Regions from separate parts of the Homo sapiens genome. Here region 1 is linked to region 2. The links come from fine-mapping of genetic effects on plasma protein levels. A gene starts in region 2. The other region holds a variant in brackets. All regions are shown on one strand. Distances are between the middles of the regions. Region 1 has its middle 20 kb from the start of COMP. Region 2 holds the start of COMP (cartilage oligomeric matrix protein).

What was found. PIP is the chance, under the fine-mapping model, that this variant and not a neighbour inherited with it causes the effect. Protein levels are from antibody-based Olink assays in UK Biobank. Linkage for the fine-mapping came from a reference panel and not from the study's own genotypes, which makes the PIPs less certain.
Region 1: its variant is fine-mapped to the plasma level of the COMP protein (UK Biobank, PIP 0.92).

Annotation. Positions count from the first base shown.
Region 1 is chr19:18,802,887-18,819,085 of GRCh38, reverse strand. No RefSeq gene overlaps it. Among named protein-coding and RNA genes, the nearest start is that of COMP, 20 kb to the right of the region's middle. RefSeq lists a silencer at 12,612-12,906. The variant A/G (reference allele first, on the strand shown) is at 10,584.
Region 2 is chr19:18,790,299-18,800,832 of GRCh38, reverse strand. COMP (cartilage oligomeric matrix protein) reads left to right here and starts at 9,528. Exons shown (of 19, transcript NM_000095.3): 1 at 9,528-9,642; 2 at 9,898-9,983; 3 at 10,220-10,271. The coding sequence starts at 9,564. RefSeq lists enhancers at 5,124-5,653, 9,209-9,787, 9,788-10,368, 10,369-10,534.

The sequences.
Region 1 (16,199 bases), 15 kb before region 2:
TGAGAGGCAAAGGTGGGAGGATTGCTTGAGGCCAGGAGATTGAAATCAGCCTGGGAAACACAGCAAGATGTCTCCCTACCAAAAATAAAAGCAAAAACTTAGTCAGGCATGGTGGCACACACCTGTAGTCCTAGATACTTGGAAGGCTGAGGTGGGAGGATCGCTTGAGCCCGGGAATTCAAGGCTGCAGTGAGCTAGGAGCTAGAATGGGGCCATTGCACTCAAGTCTGGGCCACACAGTGAGATCCTGTCTCTGAAAAATAAATAACTAAACAAATACATTCTGTTATTTATCTTTTTATTGTTGATTTATAAGAGTTTTTTTCGGCCGGGCGCGGTGGCTCACGTCTGTAATCCCAGCACTTTGGGAGGCCGAGGCGGGTGGATCACGAGATCAGGAGATCGAGACCATCCTGGCTAACACGGTGAAACCCCATCTCTAGTAAAAATACAAAAAATTAGCCGGGCGTGGTGGAGGCGCCTGTAGTCCCAGCTACTCGGGAGGCTGAGGCAGGAGAATGGCCTGAACCCGGGAGGCGGAGCTTGCAGTGAGCCGAGATCACGCCACTGCACTCCAGCCTGGGCAACAGAACGAGACTCCATCTCAAAAAAAAAAAAAAAAAAAAGTTATTTTTCTATTCTGGATACAAATCTCTTAGCAGGTACATGATTTGCAAATGTTCCCTCCTATTCTGTGAGTTGTGTTTGTTTGTTTGTTATTTTGAGACGGAGTCTCGTTCTGTCACCCAGGCTGGAGTGCAGTGGCACGATCTCAGCTCACTGCAACCTCCACCTCCCGGGTTCAAGCGATTCTCCTGCCTCAGGCTCCTGAGTAGCTGGGATTACAGGCACCTGCCACCACGCCTGGCTAATTTTTATTTTTTAGTAGAGAGGGGTTTCACCATGTTAGGCTGGTTTTGAACTCCTGACTTCGTGATCCGCCCGCCTTGGCCTCCCAAAGTTGTGGGATTACAGGCGTGAGCCAACGCGCCTGGCTCAAATGTCTTTTTAGTATAAGTATGTGCCATGCAACATTTGAGACATACTTAGGCAGAAGCAGTATTTGTTTATCTGCAGTTTACGTTTAACGGGGTTTTCTGTATTTATATTTGCTGAATCCAGCAACTCTTTACTGTCGTCTAGTGGGTAGGGGCCAGGGATGCTCCTAAACATCTATGATGCACGGGACAGTCCCCCACAAAAATTGAACTATCCTGCCCCAAACGTCAACATGCTGAGGTTGCGAAACCTTAGTGTGACACAAAAAACAGGACACCATCAGTTAACAAGCAGTGCCCAGCAATTCTGAGAGCAGGTGGTATCAACCCATTTTCCAGAGGGGGAGATTGAGGCTTGGACAGAGACGTGAGCTGTCTTTGAATCTGGCATGGGGCTTGGGAAGTGGGATTCAACTGGAGACTCTAAAAAATCACCCAAAAGAAATTGTCAGCTGGGCGCAGTGGCTCACGCCTATAATCCCAACACTTTGGGAGGCCGAGAAGGGAGGACCGCTTGAGCACAGGAGTTCGAGACCAGCCTGGCCAACATGGTGAAATCCCGTCTCCACTGAAAATCCAAAAATTAGCCAGGTGTTGTGGCCCATGCCTGTAATCCAGCTACTTGGGAGGCTGAAGCAGGAGAATCACTTGAACCCGGGAGGCGGAGTTTGCAGTAAGCCGAGATCGAGCCACTGCACTCCAGCCTGGGTGACAGAGCGAGACCATGTCTCAAAAAACAACAAAAAAGGGATAATTTGTCCCAGTGGGGACAAAAGGACTTTCAAAGGCACCAAGACTTCCCCTGGATGCAGACATCTCGGATTCGAGGGGCACAGTCTCCGAGGATCACCCTCCACCTCCACCCAGGCACTCAGTTTAAGAGAGTCCTAGGTGGGCCCAGTCATTTGCATTTATTTATTTTTATTTTTTATATATATATTTTTAAAGACAAAGTCTCACTCTGTAGCCCAGGCTGGAGTGCAATGGCGCGATCTCGGCTCACTGCAACCTCCGCCTCACAGGCTCAAGCAATTCTTGGGCCTCAGCCCAAGTAGCTGGGATTACAGGTGCCCACCACCACACCTGGCCAATTTTTTGTATTTTCTGTAGAGAAGGGGTTTCTCCATGTTGGCCAGGCTGGTCTGGAACTCCTGACCTCAAGTGATCTGCCCGCCTCGGCCTCCCAAAGTACTGGGATTACAGGCATGAGCCACCGCATCCGGCTGGCATCTGCATGTAATCCCCTCTCCAGAGGGATTTTCTAGTATGTCATATGGAGAGGCTGAGAATAAAAACAGTGCTTGGTCTAGTCATCACTGGAGGGCCCATGACCACTTTTGTTTACTTGGCTACTAGTTATTTTTTCTCAACCTGTCTTATGGTGCAGATTTTTTTTTCTAGCTATTTTTAAAAACCTAACAAACAATACAGTGATCTTCTCTATCAGTCGGCCCTGCACCTTCAGACGCAACCAAGTGGGGATTAAAAATATTTGGCAGGGGCCAGGTGTAGTGGCTCACGTCTGTAATCTCAGCACTTTGGGAGGCCAAGGCAGGAGGATCGCTTGAGCCCAGGAGTTTGAAAACAGCCTGGGCAACATAGTGAGACCCTGTCTCTACAAAAAATTTTGACATATTAGCTGGGCATGGTGATGTGGGCCTGTAGTCCCCACTACTCAGGAGGCTGAGGTGGGAGAATTGCTTGAGCCTAGAAGGTCGAGGATGCAGTGAGCTGAGATCACACCACTGCACTGCAGCCTGGGCGACAGAGCGAGACCCTGTCTCAAAAATAAAAATAAAAACTGGGCCAGGCATAGTGGCCTCACGCCTGTAATCCCAGCACTTTGGAAAGCCAAGGCAGACGGATCACCTGAGGTCAGGAGTTTGAAACCAGTCTGGCCAACATGGCAAATCCCCGTCTCTACTAAAAATATGAAAATTAACCAGGCATGGTGGTGAGTGCCTGTGATTCCCAGCTACACAGGAGGCTGAGGCAGGCGAATCACTTGAACTCGGGAGGCCGAGGTTGCAGTGAGCTGAGATCGCACCATTGCACTCCAGTCTGGGCAACAGAGCAGGACTCCATCTCAAAAGATAAAAAGAAAAAGAAAAAAGAAAAACTGAAATGTGTTGCTTATAGTTCTTGAGCCCGGGAAGTTCAAGATGAAAGTGCTGGCAGACATATGACACATCACTGTGTTCAAACCACAGGGGATGGAGATAGTGAGTCTGGGTCAACTACATCACGTCTGAATTCACATGTCTGCCCAGCCATCTGCTTGCTGTGTGACCTCTCTCCAATGTCTTGGTCTCTCTGTGTTTCACCTGAGAAATGGAATCTAGTGACACCCCCAACACCCCAGAGAGTGATACATGAGGGGCATATGGTGGCACCTGGTATCTGACCAGCCGCCACTGAGCAGGAGCTATTTATGAATGCTTGCGTTCTTTTCTTTGTCTAAATTGTGACGATTCATTATTGAATATATATTTTTTGAGACAGGATCTTGCTCTGTTGCCCAGGCTGGAGTGCAGGCTGGTGGCACCGTGATGGCTCATTGCAGCCTTGATCTCTTGGGTTCAAGCAATCTTCCTGCCTCAGCCTTTCAAGCAGGTGGGACTACAGACACGGGCCACCATGCCTGGCTACATTTTTCACTTTTTTTTTTTTTGAGACAGAGTTTCACTCTAGTCCAGGCTAGAGTGCAATGGTGAGATCTTGGCTCACTGCAACCTCCTCCTCCTGAGTTCAAGCGATTCTCCTGCCTCAGCCTCCCAAGTAGCTAGGGTTACAGGCATGCGCCACCACGCCCGGCTAATTTTGTATTTTTAGTAGAGATGGGGTTTCTCCATGTTGGTCAGGCTAGTCTTGAACTCCCGACCTCAGGTATCCAGCCCGTCTCGGCCTCCCAAAGTGATGGGATTACAGGTGTGAGCCACCGTGCTTGGCCAATTTTTTTTACTTTTTTATAGAGACAGGGTCTCACCATGTTGCCCAGGCTTGTCTCAAACTCCTGGGTTCAAGTGATCCTCCTGCCTTGGCCTCCCAAAGTGCTGGGATTACAGGCATAAGCCACTGCACCCGGCTCATTATTGAAACTTTTTAAAAGTTTCAGACAAATTGAAGTCTCCATGGGTCTTTATCACAAGTGTCTCTCTCGCCCAGTCTAGGCCGGGTTCCAGACAGAATGAGGCCAACCTTGCCAGGCATGGTGGCATGCACTTGTAGTCCCAGGTTCTCAGGAAGCTGAGGCAAAAGGATCCCTTCAGCCTAGGAATTCTAGACCAGCCTGGGCAATATAGCAAGATCCCATCTCAAAAAAAAAAAAATGAATGAGGCTGGGCACCGTGGCTCATGCCTGTAATCCTAGCATTTTGGGAGGCCCAGGTGGGCGGATCACTTGAGTTCAGTTCAAGACCAGCCTGGCCAACCCAGCAAAACCCCGTCTCTACTAAAAATACAAAAAATTAGCCAGACCTAGTGGCGCTCACCTGTAGTCCCAGCTACTCGGGAGGCTGACGTAGGATAATCGCTTGAACCCGGGTGGTAGAGGTTGCAGTGAGCCGAGATCACACCACTGCACTCCAGCCTGGGCAACAGAGCAAGACTCCATCTCAGAAAAAAAAAGAAAAGAAAAAAATATTGAATGAGGCCATCCCTAGCACTGTCCTGCTTGAAGACCTAAATCAGCCTGGTCACGCCCCTGAGCCTGGAGTCCTAAATTTATAACCTACCCTGTGCCCTGTGTCTGCTCTCAACGTAGGCTGGCCCCTCCTCGAGTTCCACATCAGCTTCCCCAGGTCCAGGAAAATGGAATTTTTCCTTCATACCAAGAGAGGTCCCTCGAGGGTAAGCGTTGGCCCTGGCCGCTGCAGAGAAATTCCACGGCTTTGGGAAAAGGATATTTAGGATATTGCAGTGGCTTCTCCCAGCCCAGACTTGGGTCTCTTTAAAATCCACTTTGTTGGCAGGGCACGGTGTTTCATGCCTATAATCCCAGCACTTTGGGAGGCTGAGGCGGGCAGATCACTTGAAGGTCAGGAGTTCGAAACCAGTCTGGGCAACATGGTGAAATCCCGTCTCTACTAAAAAATACAAAAATTAGCCAGGCGTGGTGGTGGGTGCCTGGAATCCCAGCTACTCGGGAGGCTGAGGCAGGAGAATCGCTCGAACCAGGGAGACGGAGGTTGCAGTGAGCCGAGATCACGCCACTACACTCCAGCCTGGGTGACAGAGTGAGACTCCATCTCAAAAAAAGGAAAAAAAAGAAACCCTTTTTGTTGAGCTCCCAGCTTCCACAGACGTGGCCCTCGCGGTGGCTGCCCTTGCAGAAGTGTGGCCAGTTCGGGTGGACCCGGGACCCTCCATGTACAGCACTCCTCCCTAGGAACAGTGGGTGCTTGCGGGTTCCTGTGGGCCCCTCCTCTGTGGCCCCATTCCTGTTTCAAAGGAGCCCCTTGTGGGATCTGGATACACAGCCAAGCCTCAGGCACACCCGGGCATGCTGGTAGTGAAAAGAAAAATAGGTGTGTGTGTGTCTGTGTTAGAGCTCTCCTTGCTTTGAACAGTGTCTTTGAAGGGGATGGTGGGTCTGTGTAAACCTCAGGTGGCGGGGGCAAGCCGGCAGCCACCTTGATTCTACGATCACAGGTTGCTTTTTTGGGGATGTGCTAGCGTGTCAGGGAGGTGGGTTTTGGCTTGGCCTCAAAGCTTTGGTTGCTGCAGAGACTCAAGGCTGCTATTGAGGGTGGTAAAGGTTGCTGACAGTGTCTGGAGAGGAAGGTAGCCCCTGCAGACCCCTTGGAATTCCCGAGCCAGGCTTCAGGCTGGGATATATTTTGTTTTTTGTTTTTGTTTTTATTTTTGTTTTGAGACAGAGTTGTGCTCTGTCTCCCAGGCTGGAGTGCAGTGGCACGGTCTCAGCTCACTGCAACCTCCACCTCCGGGGTTCAAGCGATTCTTCTGCCCCAGCCTCTCTAGTAGCTTGGATTACAGGCGTGCACCACTACACCCAGCTAATTTTTTGTATTTTTAGTAGAGAAGAGGTTTTACCATGTTGACCAGACTGGTCTCAAACTCCTGGCCCCAAGTGATCCGCCCACCTTGGCCTCCCAAAGTGCTGGGATTACAGGCATGAGCCACCGCGCCCAGCCTGGGATATATTTTGGATGGAAGTTCACTGTGGCTGTTTTATTATTGTTGGTTTGCTTGTTTGAGACGGGGTTTCGCTCTGTCACTCAGGCTGAAGTGCAGTGGCGCGATCATAGCTCACTGCAGCCTTGACTTCCCAAGCTAAAGTGATCCTTCCACCTCAGCCTCTTCAGTAGATGGGACTACAAGCATGGGCCACCACACCTGGCTAATTTTTTAATTTTTTGTAGAGTCAGGGGTCTTGTTATGTTGTTCAGGCTGGTCTCAAACTTCTGGCCTCAAATAATCATCCTGCCTCAGTCTCCCAAAGTGCTGGGATTACAGGCATGAGCCACCACATCCGGCTACCGAGGCTGTTTTGGAAGGTGTGATGGTGGGAAACCAAATACACTTCCCTGTGGGCCCTGTGGACCCCCACCCTATATACACATCGAGGTGGGTGTCACTGTCCCCAATTCACAGACGACCATGTGGCCTCATGTAGCCGACTCTAGTAGAGAGAAGAACAATAACAAAGCCATCAGGAATAAGAAACTGGTGTCATGTGTTAGAAGGTGACAAGATCAAACGAGAGATGTTCTGGCTCTCACCTGTAATCCCAACTCTTTGCAAGTTCGAAGCAGGAGGATCGCTTGAGCCCAGGCGGTCAAGACCTGCCTAGGCAACATGGCGAAAACCCATCTCTACAAAAAAATGCAAAAATTAGTGGGATGTGGTGGTGCGTGCCTGTAATCTCAGCTACTCGGGAGGCTGAGGCAGGACAATCGCTTGAACTCGAGAGGTGAAAGTTGCGGTGAGCCAAGATTGTGCTACTACACGCCAGCCAGTGTGACAGAGTGAGACTCTATCTCAAGAAAAACAACGAGGCCAGGCACAGTGGCTCACGCCTGTAATCCCAGCACTTTGGGAGGCCGAGGCAGGTGCATCATGAGGTCAGGAGTTCGAGACCTGCCTGGCCAATATGGTGAAACCCCATCTCTACTAAAAAATACAAAAATTAACGGAGCATGGTTGGTGCGCACCTGTAATCTCAGCTACTCAGGAGGCTGAGGCAGGAGAATCACTTGAACCTGGGAGGTGGAGGTTGCAGTGAGCTGAGATTGCGTCATTGTACTCCAGCCTGGGCCAGAGTGAGACTCCATCTCAAAAAGAAAGAAAGAAAAACAAAAACAAAAAAACAAAAAAAAAGACATCACTGGCTTCCTGGGTCCACAGTTTGCAGCCAGCAGATAGTAGGACTTCTCAGCCTCCATAAGTGTGTGAGCCAATCCCTCACAATAAATCTTTTTCTATCAATACATGCCTATCCAATTGCTTCTATTTCTCTAAAAAACCCTGACTAGCTGCTTTTAAAAATATGAGGTCTAGGCCAGGCACAGTGGCTCATGTTTGTAATCCCAGTATTTTGGGAGGCTGAGGCTGGCAGATCACCTGAGGTCAGAAGTTCAAGGTCACCCTGGCCAACATGGTGAAATGCTGTCTCTACTAAAAATACAAAAAATTAGCTGGGCGTAGTGGTGGGCCCCTGTAATCCCAGCTACTCAGGAGGCTGAGGCAGGAGAATCGCTTGAATCTGGGAGGCAGAGGTTGCGGTGAGCTGAGATCACACCATTTCACTCCAGCCTGGGCGACAGAGCTACTCAGCCTCCTGAGTAGCTGGGACTACAGGCATGAGCCACCAAGCCGGACTAATTTTGTTTGTTTGTTTGTTTGTTTGTTATGTTTTATAGAAACAGAGTTTCACCGTGTTGCCCAGGCTGGTCTCAAACTCCTGAGCTCAAAGAGATCCACCCATCTTGGCCTCCCAAAGTGCTGGGATTATAGGCATGAGCCACGGTGCCAGGCCAATAACAGCACTGTTTAAAATTGTGAGAAAGGAAGTAGGCGTGATGGCTCACGCCTGTAATCCCAACACTTTGGGAGGCTGAGGCGGGCAGATCGCCTGAGGTTGGGAGTTTGAGACCAGCCTGACCAACGTGGAGAAACCCCGTCTCTACTGAAAATACAAAATTAGCCGGGCATGGTGGCACATGCCTGTAATCCCCGCTCCTCGGGAGGCTGAGGCAGGAGAATCACTTGAACCCGGGAGGCGGAGATTTTGGTGAGCTGAGATCGCACCATTGCACTCCAGCCTAGGTGACAGAGCGAAACTCCATCTCAAAAAATAAATAAATAATAAAAAGAAAAAGAAAAAATAAGCCAGGCATAGTGGCATGAACCTGTAGTCCCAACTATTTTGGGGGCCGAGGCAGGAGGATCATTTGAGCTCAGGATGTTGAAGCTGCCATGAGCCATGATCACGCCACTGCACTCCAGTCTGGGTGACGGAGAGTTACCCTGCTGTCCCCTAAAAAAAGGCTGGACTCGGTGGCTCACGCCTGTAATCCCAGCACTTGGGAAGACCAAGGTTGGCAGATCACTTGAGGTCAGGAGTTCGAGACCAGCCTGGCCAACATGGTGAAGCCCTGTCTCTATTAAAAATACAAAAATTAGGGCCGGACGTGGTGGCTCATGCCTGTAATCCCAGCACTTTGGGAGGCTGAGGCAGATGGATCATGAGGTCAGGAGATTGAGACCAGCCTGGCCAATATGGTGAAATCCCATCTCTACTAAAAAATACAAAAATTAACCGGGCGTGGTGGCATGCACCTGTAGTCCCAGCTACTTGGGAGGCTGAGGCAGGATAATCGCTGGAACCTGGGAGGCGGAGGTTGCAGTGAGCCGAGACTGTGCCACTGTACTCCAGCCTGGGTGACAGAGTGAGACTCCATCTCAAAAAGGAAAAAAAAAAACACAAAACAATACAAAAATTACTGGGGTGTGGTGGCACGCACTTGTAGTCTCAGCTACTCAGGAGGCTGAGGCAGAAGAATCTCTGAAACCCAGGAGGCGGAGGTTGCAATGAGCCGAGATCACGCCACTGCACTCCAGCCTGGGCGACAGAGTGAGACTCTGTCTCAAAAATAAAATAAATAAATAAAAGGAAATTAAATAACCAAAAAGTAGAAATGATCCAAATGTCCCTCAACAGACGAATGGATAAACAAAATGTGGTCCATCTATGCAATGGAATATGATTCAGCCACAAAAAGGAATGAAGTACAAAACAAAAACAAAACAAAAGAGGAAGGATGCACTGCTCCCTGCTACAGCATGGACGAACCCCAAAAACACATGCCAAGTGAAAGATGCCAGACACGAAATGTCACATAGTGTGTGATTCCATTTGTAGGAAATGGCCAGAACTGGCAAATCCACAGAGACAGAAAGCAGATTTGTGGTTGCCAGGGCCTGGGGAGAGGAAGGGGGAGTGACCGCTGATGGGAACGGAGCGTCTTTACGGGGTGACGAAATAGTCTGGAAGTAGATCGAGGTAGTGATTGCACAACATGGTGTGTGCACTGAATGCCAGGGAATTGTGCACTTTATTTTATTTTATTTTATATATTTTTTGAGACTGAGTCTCACTCTGTTGCCCAGGCTAGAGTGCAGCTTCCAGGGGTCAAGCAGTTCTCCTGCCTCAGCCTCCTGAGTGGCTGGGATTACAGGCACGGGCCACCACACCAGAAAACCGGTTTTGGAGCCACTCTGTGTGTTGCGTTCTGACCCTGTCACTTATTCCCTTGCACCATCTCAGGCAAGCAGCTTCCCCCCAAGCCTCCATGTTCAGCTCTGGGAATGGGGTCACATGAAGCCCCCCCTTCCACCTTTCCACGAGCTCCCAAAGAATAGTGACAGATCCTCCTTGTTCCCATTTGCGCCCCAGCACCCGATGCAGAAATGGGCACACTCTGGGAAAAAAGTAGACTGTTGAATGAATAAACGATGGAAAAACGCATCAGCTCCAAGGTTGAGCTCCCAACCTCTATTTTTCTTTTTCCTTTCCTCTTTTCTTTTCTATTTTCTTTCTTTTCTTTTTTGAGACAGAGTCTTACTCTGTCACCCAGGCTGGAGTGCAGTGGTGAGATCTCAGCTCGCTGTAACCTCCGCCTCCCAGGTTCAAGAGATTCTTGTGCCTCAGCCTCCTGAGTAGCTGGGATTATAGGCATGTGCCAGCATACCAGGCTAATTTTTGTATTTTTAGTAGAGACGGGGTTTCATCATGTTGGCCAGCCTGGTCTCGAACTCCTGACCTTAGGTGATCCATTCACCTCAGCCTCCCAAAGTGCTGGGATTACAGGCATGAGCCAGTGTGCCCGGCCCCCAACCTCTATTTTTTGAGGGAGTTGCTCCCTGGTCAGGGGGACAAGGGCAGGGGAAACTTTCCTTAGCTGGAAAAACCCTGCAGAGGCCAGGAGCAATGCCTCATGCCTGTCATCCTAGCACTTTGGGAGGCCGAGGCAGGAGGATCACATGAGCCCAGGAGTCCAAGACCAAACTGGGCAACATAGGGAGATCCCATCTCTACAAAAAGTTTTGGAAAGTTAGCCAGGC[A/G]TGGTGGCAAGAGACTGTAGTCCCTGCTACTCAGGAGGCTGAGGCAGGAGGGTCGCTTGAGCCTAGGAGGTGGAGGCTGCAGTGAGCCGAGATCGCACCACTGCACCCCAGCCTGTTCAGCCTGGGTGACAGCGCAAGACCCTCTCTCAAAAAAAAGGAAAAAAAAAAAAACCCTGCAGAACCCGGGCCTCCAAGGAGGGCATGGCAGGGCGGGCCGGGTCCGAGCCGCTTCAGCAGGAGGAACAGTGGTATGACGAGCCCTTTCCACTCTGTGGTCAGACTCCCAGCCCGGAGAGCAATAAAACAGCCCTGCTCAGACTGGAAACATTTTCCTTTCATGTGTTTCTGGAGGCGCTGGCATGGTCCACGAGGAAAATTCCAGCGGAATAAGAAGAAATGTCTTCAGCATCCACCGAGGGCCAGGAAGGGGTAGTCAGGCCGGGAAGGGGTAGTCAGACCCGGGCCTCGGGGGAACCCAGCCATGCTGGGGGGAGGCCTCGAGGCCCAGGCAGGGCCAGGCAGCTGTCAGCGCATTATCTGGGTCTGGGAGGCTCCTGTGGACGACAGACCTCCCCAGCCCCGTGGTGGTGAGGATAGCGGGTGGCCTGGCCTGTTGGAGACAGCTCTCCTCAGGAATTCACATAAAACTGCTTTGAGATGTGTCTACCATGCATGTTGAGCCCATGGGGTTCCCAGGTCTGGGAGGGAGCCTCTCGGTACCTGGCACAGGACGAGGGGGTACAGGTCTGATGTGCCTTCTGCTCACATACCTCCCATGGCTCCCCATTGCCCTGGGATGGAGTCCAAGTCCCATCGTCCCAGGGCTTGTGGGCCCTTCCAGCAGTATGGCCCTTTCTCCCCTCACTCTGTGTGAGTTGGGCCCCTCTACACACAGTTCCAGAAACACTCCATCGTTCTCTGTCGCCTCCAAGCCTTTACACACGCTGGTCCCCCCACCCGAGCACCCTCTGTGGCCTCTTACCAGGCCAATTCTCATCTCTCCTTCAGTCGCAGCATAGCAGTCCCTCCTGCTGACCCTCCATAGCTGCCTGTGCGCCTCCAGCATGACTCAAACCACTCTGCCATTTATTTATTTTATTTATTATTGTTTTTTAATTTTATTTATTTATTTTTGAGACGGAGTCTCGCTCTGTCACCCAGGCTGTAGTGCAATGGTGCAATCTCAGCTCACTGCAACCTCCGCCTCCTGAGTTCAAGCAATTCTCCTACCTCAGCCTTCCAAGTAGCTGGGATTACAGGTGCCTGCTACCATATCCAGCTAATTTTTGTATTCTTAGTAGAAACGGGGTTTCTTTTCTTTTTTTCTTTTTTTTTTTAGACAGAGTCTCGCTCTGTCACCAGGCTGGAGTGCAGTGGCGCGATCTCGGCTCACTGCAACCTCCGCTTGCTGGGTTCAAGCAATTCTCATGCCTCATCCTCCTGATTAGCTGGGATTACAGGAACGTGCCACCACACCCAGCTAATTTTTGCATTTTTAGTAGAGACGGGGTTTCATCATGTTGGGCAGGATGGTCTCGATCTCCTGACCTCGTGATCCACCCACCTTTGTCTTCCCAAGTGCTGGGATTACAGGCATGAGCCACCGCGCCCAGCCGAAACGGGGTTTCACCATATTGGCCAGGCTGGTCACGAACTCCTGACCTTAGCCCCACCTCAGCCTCCCAAAGTGCTGGGATTACAAGCATGAGCTACCATGCCTGGCCTAATTTTTTTTTAAGAGATGAGGTCTCGGCCGGGTGCTGTGGCTCACGCCTGTAATCCCAGCACTTTGGGAGGCCAAGGCAGGCAGATCATGAAGTCAGGAGTTCGAGACCAGCCTGACTAACATGGTGAAACCCCGTCTCTACTAAAAATACAAAAGTTACCTGGGCGTCATGGTGCGCACCTGTAATCCCAGCTACTCAGGAGGCTGAGGCAGGAGAATCGATTGAACCCAGGCGGCAGAGGTTGCAATGAGCCAAGACCACGCCATTGCATTCCAGCCTGGGCAACAGAGGGAGACTTTGTCTCAAAAAAAAAAAAAAAAAAAAGAGGTGAGGTCTCATAATGTTATCCAGGCTGGCCTTGAACTCCTGGTCTCAAGTGATCCTCCTACCACGGCACTCCCAAAGTGCTGGGATTATAGGCATGAGTCACTGTGCCTGCCTATTATTTATTTATGTATTTATGTATTTATTTTGAAATGGAGTCTTGCTCTGTCGCCCAGGCTGGAGTGCAGTGGCACAATCTCTGCTTATTGCAAGCTCCGCCTCCCAGGTTCACGCCATTCTCCTGCCTCAGCCTCCTAAGTAGCTGGGACTACAGGCACCTGCCACCACGCCCGGCTAATTTTTTTGTATTTTTAGTAGAGACGGGGTTTCACCATGTTAGCCAGGAGGGTCTTGATCTCCTGACCTTGTGATCTGCCCACCTTGGCCTCCCAAAGTGCTGGGATTACAGGCGTGAGCCATCGCGCCCGGCCCTATTTTTTTTTTTTTTTTTTTTTTTTTTTTTTTTTTAGAGAAGGAGTCTTGCTCTGTCGCCCAGGCTGGAGTGCAGTGGTGCAATCTCAGCTCACTGCAATCTTTGCCTCCCAGGTTCAAGAAATTCTCCTGCCTCAGTCTCCCGAGTAGCTGGTACTACAGGCACACACCGCCACACCTGGCTAATTTCTTTTGTATTTTAGTAGAGATGGGGGTTTCACCATGTTGCCCAGGCTGGTCTTGAACTTCTGGTCTTAAGTGATCCTCCCACCATGGCCTCCCAAAATGCTGGGATTACAGATGTGTGCCACTGTGACCAGCCTCACTCTGCCATTTATTGAGGGCAAATTTCTGGGTTGTAGGCCAGGTGTGGTACCTCACACCTGTAATCCTAGCACTTAGAGAGGCCAAGGTGGTTGGATCACTTGAGCCCAGGAGTTTGAGACCAGCCTGGGCAACACAGCAAGACCTTGTCTCTACAAAATATAAAAATTAGCTGGACAGGGTGATATGTGCCTATGGTCCCAGCTACTTGAGAGGCTGAGGTGGAAAGATCACCCAAGCCCAGGGGGTCGAGGCTGCAGTGAGCCGGGATTGCACCACTGCACTTCAGCCTGGGCGACAGAGCGAGACTCCAGCTCATAAATAAATAAATAAATAAAGTTCTGGTTGTAAATCCTGGGGCACTGCTGGGGGAGGTCTGGGGGTCTCAGAGGGTATATGTTTGTGAAACTTTGTTGTGATAGCCAGCATCCTCCTTTGTCCCCAAGGAGACAATCTCACCTAGTATATGCCAGGTACAATGGCACAAACTGCGGATAAACCACGTTCCCAACCTCATGAAAATGTAGCCGAGAAGATCATTTCCAAGAGTGAGAAGTGTCTGAAAGAAATACCTGGGTGTAGGTATTTTTGCCCATGGGTTGGGAAAGGTCTCCTGAGGTGTTGACATTTAAGCCAAGTCCTGGGTCACAGAAGGGTATTTTATGTAAATATGAAGGAAGGGGCTGGGCGCAATGGCTCACACCCATAATCCCAGCACTTGGGAGGCAAAGGTGGGTGGATCACTTGAGGTCAGGAGTTCAAGACCAGCATGACCAGCATGGGGAAACCCCATCTCTGGCCTGGGAGCCCTACAGACCGGGGCCAACCTTGACTCGCCTCATGGGTCCCCACTGCCTGGGCCAGGGCTTGGCAGGCAGGTAGATGCTGCACTTGACCTTGAACGTGGATGCGCTTCTACAGCAATGCCCTGTGTTCCAGACGGGAAGCCGAGTCTCCCCTTGTGCCCGGAGAGATGTGGGGACCCAGCTTTTTGGCCTTCTGATCAGGCCCCTCTGCAGGTCTCAGGCCTGTGGGCTGGCAGGGGCCCCAGGGCCTGTTTTTTCCGCCTGGTGTTGGGATTGACGTCTTGAAGGGGCAACGCCTTGGTGCTGGTGATTATTTTTTTAACCTTTGCAGATTCAGCCAGAGACTCGAAATCAAAGCCGTTCTGCCCCCCAGCCCCAGCCGGGCCACAGCCAGCGAGGCCACATGGAGGCCTGACCTGTTGGATGACGGGCCACTGGCCTCCCCAGACCGCACGGTCCAAGGGTTGCGTCCAACTCCACATCTGGACTTTTCGAATTGGTCGTGGCTTCCAACTGGAACAAAAGGACCCGGGATGGGGAAAACATGGGTTCCCCCTGCCCCACCCCACCTGTTTGCACAAAGGATGGGGATCAAGGACGCAGCCAGAGACCCCTGCCCATCTCCCTGCAACGCACACAGCCCAGGCCTGGAAGTCACAGGCCACTCTTTGCCCACAAGGTCCACGGTTCCATCTGGAGCCTGGCCAGCCCAGACCAGACACCTCAGCAACAACATGGCCAAGGTGGGGTTCATGGTTTTCTGCTAAGTCTTCCTGTGTCGGGCAACAACCCTACCAACCACCTTGTGATGGGTTCAAGATCTGGGCGCGTCTGAGACTCCTCCCTCCCTTCCTTCCCAAGCTCATCAGTAGCTCTAGTCCTCTCAGGCTTCAAAACAAACAAATCTAACCTCTCCTCCCCACCCTGTGGCCGTGCCCTGGCCCTGGCCCCACCAGCTCTTGCCTTGACATTGCCTGGCCTCTTCCCCATTGCAGCCACAAGAGATGGCTTAAAATCATAAATCATGTTCCTCCCCTGCTCACACACTCTCCATGGCTCCCTATTGCTCTCAGAATAAAACCCACCTCCTTGCTGCAGCTTGCAAGGCCCCCATGTGATCCCACCTTGGCCCATCTCTCTAACCCATCTCCCCCCTCCTCCCTCACTCTGCTCCAGTCACATCGGCCTCCTCACCTCCTCCAACAAGAAAATTACTTCCTACCCCAGGGCCTTTGCACAAGCTCACCTCTCTGCCTGGAATTCCCTTCCTTAATTTTTGTTGTTGTTGTTGCTGTTGTTTTTGTGACAGGATCTCACTCTGCCACCCAGGCTGGAGTACAGTGGCACGATCATAGCTCACTGCAACCTCTGCCTCCCCAGGCTCAGGTGATCCTCCCACCTCAGCCCCCTGAGTAGCTGGGATTATAGGCAGGCACCACCACGCCCCGCTAATTTTTGTAGTTTTAGTAGAGACGGGGTTTCACCAAGTTGGCCAGGCTGGTCTCGAACTCCTGACCTCAGGTGATACACCCACCTTGGCCTCCCAAAGTGATGGGATTACAGGCATGAGCCTCCGCACCTTGGCCCACCAGCAGCAATTTGGAAAGAAACTGGTGGTGGGGACTCTTCCAGGTAATGCCTGTTTCCTTGTGATGCTTAAGGTGGCTTGGTACCCAGGGGAGGTCGGGAGGCCAGCAGAGTAAGGAAGAACCCACCTTCCTGCAAGCAGAGGGCAGTAAGAAGGGGCCTCAAATACAGCAGCCGGAGGTAGAGACAGGGGATGGGGCTTGGCACATGGCCAGGGTCACCCCGTTAAAGCTACTCAGGCCAGGCACGGTGGCTCACACCTGTAATCCCAACATTTTGGGAGGCCGAGGAGGGCGGATCATCTGAAGTAAGGAGTTTGAGACCAGCCTGGCCAACATGGTGAAACCCCATCTCTACTAAAAATACAAAAATTAGGGTGTTGTAGTGGGCGCCTGTAATCCCAGCTACTTGGGAGG
Region 2 (10,534 bases):
CTGGTGCCGGGACTCACTGAGTGTTTGGAGGCTGACTGGCTGCAGGCATTGGCGATGGCATGGTCCTGTCCCCCAAGGCTGCTCCACAGATTGGGGGAAAAAGCACCCTGTGGCTTCAGTGGCCCCTGGGAGGCTCCTTGGAGAGCTGAGAGGTGAGGGTGTGGCCAGAGGGTGGTTCTGTTGGGGTCAACTCTGAGACTCTATCCTGGTGGCACCGTGGATGTGGGATGCCCCAATGGCTTGTCTCTGCCCCCACTGGGGTCCTATAGCTTCCAACTACCCTTCGGTTCTGTGCTTCTGTTGACTGGACTGCGTGGATCTCTAACTCTGTGGTCCCGTGGCCCTAGGACTCCACAGTTCAGTTGCTCCATTAACCAGTGATGTGATTCTGTCATTTCTTAGTCCTGTGGATCCTTGTTTTGTGGTCTTGTAGCTTTTCTTTACTCCATCATCCATCCATCCATCTATCCATCCACCCATTCATCCACTTATCCATCCATCCACTTATCTATCCATCCATCTACTTATCTGTCCATCCATCCATCCATCCATCCATCCATCCACTTCTACATCATCCATCCATTCAGCTGCCTATCCACCTATCCATCCATCCATTTATCCACTTACTCATCCATCCATCCACTTATTCATCTATATACCCACTTATCTATCCATCCACCCATTCATTCATTCATTTATACATCCACTTATGCATCCATTCATCTGTTTATCCATCCATTTATACATTATCCATCCACATGTATAAATGTATCCATTTATCCATTATTTATTCACTTATTCATTCATCCATACAATATATCTCCTTATCCATTCATTTATCCATCCATTCACTTATCCATCCATCCATTCACCCATCCATCTACCTATCCATCCATTCACTTATACATCATTCATCCATCTATTCATCAATTCATTATCTTTGCACCCATCCACCTATCCATCTGTCTATCCAGCCATCCACTTATCCATCCATCTATCCATCCACTTATACATCATCCATCCATCCATTAATCAATCCATTCACTTATTTATCCATTTGCCTATCCATCCATCCATCCATCCATCCACTTATCCATTCATCCATCCATCCATTTATCCATCCATCCATCCATCCATCCATCCATCCACTTGTCCATCCATTCATCCATCCACTTACCCATCCATCCATCCACTTACCCATCCATCCATCCATGCACTTATCCATCCATCCATCCATCCATCCATCCACTTATCCATCCATCCTCCATACATCCATTCATTTATCCATCCATCCATCCATCCATCCACTTATCCATCCATCCATCCACTCATTTATCCATCCATCCATCCATCCACTTATCCATCCATCCATCCACTCATCCATCCATCCACTTATACATCCATCTGTCCATCCATTATTGGAGTATTCCATCATGTGTATATGCAGGGAACACAGAGGGGAACAAGATGGTGGAGCTCAGTCTGATGGAGGAGGCAGCCCCATGACCCGTGTAACCTGGCAGTGCCCATACAGCATGGTCACAGCTCTGATGGAGCACACCAAGGGCCTGTGAAGGCCAGCGGGAGCCTCTAAGCCAGCCGGGGTGAGGAATGAGCCATGTGAAAGCAGACAGGGCACCAGGGAGCGGTCACAGCCCAGGTAAGGGCCTGGCGTGCAGAAAGATGTGGGAATGGACACGCCCATGGAGCCTAAACATGGCTCACAGCCGGAAGATTTCCTCCATTTCCCCTCCCCGCTTGCTGCAGCCACTCCTGACGCCTCGCGGAACCTCCAACACATCAAGCACATACCCACCTCTGGGCCTTTGCCCCTGCTGTGCCCTCTGCCTGGGGCTCTGCTCTGCTGGCACCTGTTCACTTGTTCAACTCTCGGCACCAATTTCCCCAGCAGAATGGCCTCCCTGACCCTTGGCCTCTGTTTCCAGAAGGGGCCCAGCTGGCCCCTTTCCGTGCAGCAGTATTGGGGCTGGGCTCCTCCCTACCTGGGAGCCTCCCTCCCCTACTGGCCCGGCCCTGGCCTGGGCTCCTGTCTGCAGCCGCCGGTGGGTAAACACACCCCGCCCTCGGCCTCCCACGCCATCCATCACTCCCCTGAACAAGGGCCTCCTGTTAATGAGCCCAGGTAGGGGCTGGGAGGGGCACGAGGGGTACTGAGGAACTGCAGTAGTGCTCTGGTCCCTGCACTCTCCACTTTCTCTGCTGACAGCCCACCCTACCTTCTCCAGCGGGAACTGCAGAAGCCTGGTTGGGAGACTCTCTCCTGGAGCCTTAGGCAGCGGTAGGAGGTGACTTCCCACTCTGAGCATCCAGTGACCAAATTGAGGAGACAGGACAGACTTGCTGAGCCTCAGTTTGCCAACCTGTAAAATGGGGATGTTAATAGCTGACATTGATTGAGGGCTCAGCTCTTTCTTTTCCTTTTTTTTTTTTCTTTTTTTTTTGAGACAGAGTCTTACTCTGTCTTACTCTGTCACCCCAGGCTGGAGTGAGAGTGGCATGATCTCAGCTCAGTGCAGCCTCTGCCTCCTGGGCTCAGGCAACGCTCGTGCCTCAGCCTCCTGAGTAGCTGGGATTATAGGCATGCACCACCATGCCTGGCTAATTTTTGTATTTTCAGTAGAGATGGGGTTTCACCATGTTGCTTAGGCTGGTCTCTAACTCCTGACCTCAAGTGATCCACCTGCCTCAGCCTCCCAAAGTGCTGGGATGACAGGCTTGAGCCACCACGCCTGGGCCTTTCCTTTTCTTGAGACAGGGTCTTACTCTGTTACCCAGGCTGGGGTGGGATGACAGGCGTGAGCCACCACGCCTGGGCCTTTCTTTTTCTTGAGACGAGGTCTTACTCTGTTACCCAGGCTGGGGTACAGTGGTACAATCATAGCTCATTACAGCTTCAAACTTCTGGGCTCAAGCCATCCTCCCACCTTAGCCTCCTGAGTAGCTGGGACTACAGGCACATACCACCATGCCTGGCTAATTTTAAATTTTTTTTTTGTTTGTTTGTTTTGTTTTAGAGACAGGGTCTTGCTATATTGCCCAGGCTGGTTTTGAACTCCTAGGTTCAAGCGATCCTCCCACTTCCGCCTCCCAAGCAAGGGCTGTGAACTTTCTGGGCGCTAATTCATTCAATTCTTACACTGACGCTAAGAGGTCAGGATTCTTCTCATACTTATATTCACCTTGGTTTTTCCTGCTACCGTTACCTTGCGTAAAACTTTACACATTTCCATTTTCACTTCATTAGACAGAGAGACTGAAGGAGAGAACAAAGCTTCTACAGTTAGCCCTGAAGGCACTCTCCTCCCCTCAGAACACAGACACTAGTTTATTTGACTGCATGAAACCTTCATTAAATATAGGTGTTATGCCTGTAATTCCAGCTACCCTGGAGGCTAAGATGGAAGGGACACTGGAGCCCAGGAGTTAGAGAGCAGCCTGGGCAACAGAGCAAGACCCTGTCTCTACAAAATAAAAAAAATTAGCCAGGTGTGGTGGCACATGCCTTTGGCCCCAGCTAATCAGGAGGCTGAGGTGTGAGGACGGCTTGAGCCCAAGAGTTTGAGCTACAGTGAGCTGTGTTTGTACCACTGCGGTCCAGCTGGGGTGACAGAGCGGGAACCTACCTCAAAAACAAGAAAGAAATGGAGACAGAGAGGAAGAGAGAGAGACAGGGAGGAGGGAAGAAGGAAGGGAGAGGGGGAGGGAGGAAGGAGGAAGGGAAGGAAGGAAGGAAGGAAAAGAGAAAAAAGAAAGAAACCAGTATCAATTGAATATTGTGAAATTCCTATCTGTTCCTAGTGAATTTTTTTTTTTTTTTTTTTTTTTTTTTTTTTTTTGACACAGAGTCTTACTCTGTCGCCCAGGCTGGAGTGCAATGGTGCAGTCTCGGGTCACTGCAACCTCCGCCTCCTGAGTTCAAGCAATTCTCCCGCCTCAGCCTCCTAAGTAAGTAGCTGGGATTACAGACACCTGCCATCATGCCCGGCTAATTTTTGTACTTTTGTACAGACAGGGTTTCACCATGTTGGCCAGGCTGGTCTTGAACTCCTGACCTCAGGTCATCCGCCCTCCTTGGCCTCCCAAAGTGCTGGGATTACAGACGTGAGCCACCACGCCCGGCCTCTGGTGAAATTCTTTCTCTCCTGAAGCAACTCTTCAGTATAGTAACCTGAGAAGTAAAATTTTACATTATAAGAAACTTTCGAAGGTGGCAAAAAAAAGAAGAAGAAATAAAGGAAAAAAGAAGAAACTGAGGCACAGAGAGGTTAAGCAACTTGCCTCATGTACCACAGCAGAGCTGGGATATGAAACTCAGGCTCTGATGCCAGAGACTGAGACCTTCATCACTGTGCCCCACTGTCTCCCATGATGACAAATTCCTGCCTTCTGGGACTTAAGGGATGACAGAAAGAGAAAACCCACAAAGGCTGAGTGGTAAGGTTTCAAGCATTTGGCACTTGCTCAAGAAAACTGTAGCCACTGTATTTATTGTTGTCTTCTTCCTTTATCGCCATCCAGTAGAGCCTGGGATGCAATGGGGGTAGGGACTGAGTAAAAGGAGAATGGGGCTGGGTGCAGTGGTGCACATCTGTGATCCCAGCACTTTGGGAGGCTGAGGTGGGAGGATCACTTGAGCCCAGAAGTTGGAGGCTGCAATGAGTGAGCTATGATTGTCACTGTACTTCAGGCCAGGCAACAGAGCAAGACCCTGTTTCAAAAAAAAAAAAAAAAAAAAGGAGACTGGGAGAGGAGGTGGCACCTGCCAAAGGTCACACGGCCAGTCGGGGGGCGTCTCCTGGACTTCAAAGCTCAGAGCCCCCCATCCCACCCCTGCCTTTTGTTCCTTCTAGAGAGATGCCTCCAGTACGTCTCTCCCAGTTCAAGGCAGGCTGAGGATGCAGAGGTCGCCAAGCTGCCCTCCCCTGCCGCCCTGATGAATTCCGCAGACTGGGGGCCTACAGCCCGGCCCGCCCAGGGCAGGGCGGCTGCCTTCACAACATACTTTCCTTCTGCATTCACAAAGGCAGGCAACGGTGGGGGCGGGAGGCAGGGAGCCGGGGCGCCCACACGTCTCCTGGCTGAGCAGACGTCTGCCAGGAAGGGCCCCGGGGCCCCATCATGCAGGCACCCGTCCCTCTTCCCCAGCCTGGCCGGGCTCCTGGAACCACGGGGCCTGGTGTGGGGCTGGCTGGGGCGCCGGCCAGATGCTCTGGCCAGGAGGTCCTGGGCCGAGAAGACATCCCAGTTAATGAGGGGCTCGGGCCAGCGAAATGCTGGATTCTGTTTCTGTGGCAAGGACAGAGAGGGCGGGTATGAAGGGCTTGAGGGTCTTGCATGCCTCAGTTCTAATTCTGGCTGTGTGACCTCAGACTGTCTCTTCTCCTCTCTGAGTAAGATAGAAATAAGAACGATCTGAGGTATAAGCGACAGGCACAGGGTATAAGTTTTTTTGTTTTGTTTTGTTTTTTTGAGACAAGGTCTCACTCGGTCGCCCAGGCTGGAGTGCAGTGATGTGATCTCGGCTCACTGCAACCTCTGCCTCCCCGGTTCAAGTGATTCTCCTGCCTCAGCCTCCCGATTAGCTGGGATTACAGGCACGCGCCACCACGTCCAGCTAATTTTTGTATTTTGAGTAGAGATGGAGTTTCACGTTGGCCACACTGGTCTCGAACTCCTGGCCTCAGGTGATCCACCTGCTGTGGCCTCCCAAAGTGCTGGGATTATAGGTGTGAGCCACCACACTGGCCCACGGTGTATAAATTTCATATGGAATAAGCACGCTAGTAGCGCTGGAGCTGGGCGCTGGGCTGAAGGATTTCCATGGGTCAGCTCATTCAATCCTCTCAACAGTGATCATCCTCATTTTATGGGTGAGAAAACTGAAGCACAGAGAGGTTAAGTGACTTGTCCTAGGTCACACAGTAAGGCCATGCTCACCAATATTTGAACCCAGGCTGTGTGGCCCCCTTCCCTGCCATATCAAGTACAGAGGTGGCAGGGGTTACTAGGATTCATATGATAATGTTGGCTGGGTGCAGTGGCTGAAATCCCAGGGTTTTGAGAGGCCGAGGAAGGAGGATCTGTTGAGCCCAGGAGTTCGAGACTAGCCTGGGCAACATAATAAGACCCCCATCTCTATTTTAAAAAAAAAAAAAAATAGTAATGACATTACATTAATTATAAAAAGTAGTAATGGCCAGGCGCGGTGGCTCACGCCTGTAATCCCAGCACTTTGGGAGGCTGAGGCAGGTGGATCACCTGAGGTCAGAAGTTCGAGACCAACCTGGCCAACATGGTGAAACCCCGTCTCTACTAAAAATATAAAAAAATTAGCTGGGCGTGGTGGCAGGTGCCAGTAATCCCAGCTACTCAGGAGGCTGAAGCAGGGGAATCACTTGAACTCAGGAGGCAGAGGTTGCAGTGAGCCGAGATTGCACCATCGCACTCCAGCTGGGCGACAAAAGTGAGACTCCATCTCAAAAAAAAAAAAAAAAAATAGTAATGAACACGAATCATAGGGATGCTGTCCCGGCTCACCAAGCCCTCCAGCCTAACCTTTCTACACCAGTCCAGGCCCCTGGGTGGGAGCCCCTCAGGCTCGGAGGGACAGAGCAAACCACAGACACTCACAGTCCCGAGGATCATGGCTAGGCTGGAAGGTTATCTGGAGAATATCAGCAGGGAAGGCTTCCTGGAGGAGGGGACATTATAGCTGGACCTTGAAGGATGGAGGAGTTTGTACGAGGTGGGGGGAACAGCAGGTACAAAGGCCCAGAATGACACCTACAGTGAGTTATTCTGTAATCTGAGGCAAGTGTGGTGTGCACAGGAGGAGGGGACTGCTGCCTAGAAGGGGGATTTCAGGGCTGGCGAGATCCAGGAGGCAGGAGTGTGACCCCAGACATCCCCTTTCCGGGCCTCTGTTGTCCGATCTTGGGACACCCTCAGGAACTCCACCTTTGTAGTTCCCTCCGCCTGGAATGCCCTTCCCTGCAACTCCCCGTGGCCCAGCCATGGATAAGGCCACGTGTGTCCAAGCCCCAGCACTGTGACCAGCCTGTGGCAGGGGCCTGGCTTCCATGTGCTCCTGTCCTAGCTGTGTGCAGCATATGCCAGCCCCCAGGCCCCACTGGAGCTGTGGTTTTCCCGAGAATTCCAGTGCTGCCAGGAGCGGCCCCCAGGTGTGCTGAAGGCCAAGGAAAACAGGAGGTGAGCTCATGGCCCCAATGTAGGCAGCAGGCAGGGCAGGCACTATTGAGGACAGGCTTCATTGGAAATGCTCTGGCTGGGACCAGCTGCTTCCACCAACACTCCACTTATAGGCCTGTCTCTCTTCACGCACTCTCTGTGGCTCCCCATTACCCTCGGGAGACCACTGGAGCCCCACACCACCAGCACTGCCCTTTCACACACAGCCTCATCTCCTGCTTCTCACTGAGCCCCAAGAGCTTGTCACCTTGAGGTCAGTCCATCCAACGGGCCAGGTTGGTTCCTGCCTCAGGGCCTTTGCCTATGCTGTTTCCTCTACCTGGAATGACTTTCTGCTACCTCTGCCTGGCTGTGTCCTCCTCATCATCCGGTCCTCAGCTTGGTGGTCCCTCCTCCTCCAGAAGCCCGCCCTGACCCATCCCCTTTCAAACAGATCAATTTCCTGGGGACTCCTACCATTGTCTGTGTGTCCCGTCACAGCCATGAGCCCACTGGGCTCCCCATTTGAAGGAGAGACTGGGTCTGGCTTCTTCACCCTGTGTGCCCATCACCCAGCACAGGAGACATGACACACAACAGTCCTTGATGTTTGTGAAATAATTATTGTGTCTAGAAATGTCCCCACCTCCAAGCTTCACATGCTTCCCTCCACCAAAACTGCCCTCACCTTTTCCCTCTGCTGATCCAAGTCCTCCTTTTCTTTTATGTCTGTCTCCTTGCTACCTCCTCCAGGAAGCCCTCGGTGACTTCTCTGTAGGCTCCCCAGAAAACATATCTGGCTCTGAGTCTAGATTCACCCCTGCCCTCGGGCAGTGGCCTTAGGCCAGTCACTTTTTCTCTCTGGGCCTCAGTTTCTCTGTCTATAGAATAGACGCTGTGAGTACTGGAAGGTGGGAGTGGAGAGTGTTAACTGATTGCAGGAGGTTAAGGGGTTTTGTAACTCCAGAGTGTGGCTGGCCAGTTAGCGGTAACTTTTATTTTTATTACAGGCTGTTCCCACAGCAGCTGGAGCACAGTTTGGAAGGTATGGCACAGCCTGGACAAACAGAAGCCCCGGACCTCCCCTTGCTAGAGCCCTTTAACTTGCTCCCCTCCAGATGGGGGCCTCACACCCCATTGCGCAGATTGGAAAACCAAGTGGGCCTGTCCCCTTGGACAGGGGTTGGGGCAAGATCCTGAACGCTGTCCCCTCCTCCACCAGCCGAGGGACCATGGGGAGGGGAGGGAACACCAGCAATGAGTTGGGTTGGGGGGAGTCATTTGCAGCCCTCCAGCGTTGGGGCCAGAAGCGGCCTCCTTGGACAGAGGCAGGAAAATTGAGAGTCCCAGGTCTCAACTGCCCCTCCCCTATTTTCCATTCATCATCATAATCATCATTACTATTAATCATTAATTAATAATTATTAACTTATTACCTCCATTGTGCAAGGGAGGAATTACGCCTGGGTAATTTTTGTACTTTTAGTAGAGATGGGGTTTCACCATGTTAGCCAGGCTGGTCTCAAACTCCTGACCTCAGGTGATCTGCCCGCCTTGGCTTCCCAAAGTGCTGGGATTACAGGTGTGAGCCACCGCACCCAGCAACTTACCCAGTTTTGAAGCACTTCAGGAGGAGTGGAGGGCCAGTCAGTCTGATCCATAGTGGGTGGACCTATTTTTTCAGACGCTGGTGACTCTGTTTCCCGAAGTGTGAGCTGAGAGCGTGGCCATGGAGCCTGCCTTGTTTGGAACTGGAACTCAGGTTTGGCATACAGCAAGCACTCAATCAATCAATCAATCAATGAGCTGAATGCTATGGCTGGATCCTGTAATCCCAGTTATGTGGGGAGTATCGCTTGAGGCCGGGAGTTTGAGACTACTAGCCTGCAGGACATAGCCAGACCCGGTCTCTAAAAATAAAAATAAAAATAAAAATAAATTAGCTGGACTTGGTGGTGCGGGCTTGTAGTCCCAGCTACATGGGAGACTGAAGCAAGAGGATGCGATACAGCCACACCCCGTCACACACACACACACACACACACACAGACGCACACACACAGTGAATGAAAGTGGGGGCAGTACCCCCTGACTCCCTGCCCCACCAGCTCTCTCCACAGACCCCGGGACTCAGTTTCCCCACCATGTCGGATTCAGCCGCGGGCGACTTCGCGGGGCATTCCGGGCGGGGACTTGAACGCAGGGGCCAGCGCCATCTGTTTACCTTGAGGCTGGACGTTGGGCAGGGCTGTGGTGGGCCGTCCCTGGGGCCGGCCGTGCCTTGGGGATAAATAGGCCCCGCGGGCCTCGTGGGCGGTAGAAAGCGAGCAGCCACCCAGCTCCCCGCCACCGCCATGGTCCCCGACACCGCCTGCGTTCTTCTGCTCACCCTGGCTGCCCTCGGCGCGTCCGGACAGGGCCAGAGCCCGTTGGGTAAGCCGCGTTAGCACCCGCGCCGTGCCCACGGCCCCACAACGGACTGTAGGACCCGTGAGAGGCCCGGGATCCAGGCTGTTTGGGGCTCACGGACTGTTCGTAGGGGACGTGCCGGGCGCAGAAAGCAGGTGGCGGGACCGAGACTAGAGGAGCGCAGTGGGGCCTCGGAGGTCCGGGTTCGCTGCAACGGTGGGAGTTGGTGGTGGGATTCCCCGGCCCCATGACGCCTCACCAGGTCCCCTGCCGCCGCAGGCTCAGACCTGGGCCCGCAGATGCTTCGGGAACTGCAGGAAACCAACGCGGCGCTGCAGGACGTGCGGGAGCTGCTGCGGCAGCAGGTGCGGGGCCCGGGTGCGGGGCAGGGAGTGCCAGGGAACGGAAGGGGGTCTCAGTTCCCAGCGAGGAGAGAGGAAGTACCCGAGAAGGTGGAGAGGAGATGGGGAGGGAAGGGGGTCGGCGGGTAGGGAGTCCTTGGCGAAAAGAGGCTGTAGAAAGGGACCCCGGGGTAGAGAGAGGGGAGACCCGAGGGATGAGGAGAGGTTGGGACCCCGCTGATTCCATCCCACCCCTGCAGGTCAGGGAGATCACGTTCCTGAAAAACACGGTGATGGAGTGTGACGCGTGCGGTGAGCGCGGCGGGGCGGTCGGGAGAGAGAAGAGACGGGAGACAGAGACACAGAGACAGAGACAGAGAGCCAGGGAAAGCTGGGGAGGAAAAGAGACGGAAGGAGATGGAGGCTGACGGAGAGGTGGACGGACGAACGGGAATGGGATGGGGTGTGTAGAAACAGAGACAAAAAGAGACAGAAGCGGTGAGAGAGTTTTGGGGAAGTGAGAGACGCCACGGGGCAGAAAAGCGGGACAGAGACTCAGAGAAGAGACCGGGGAG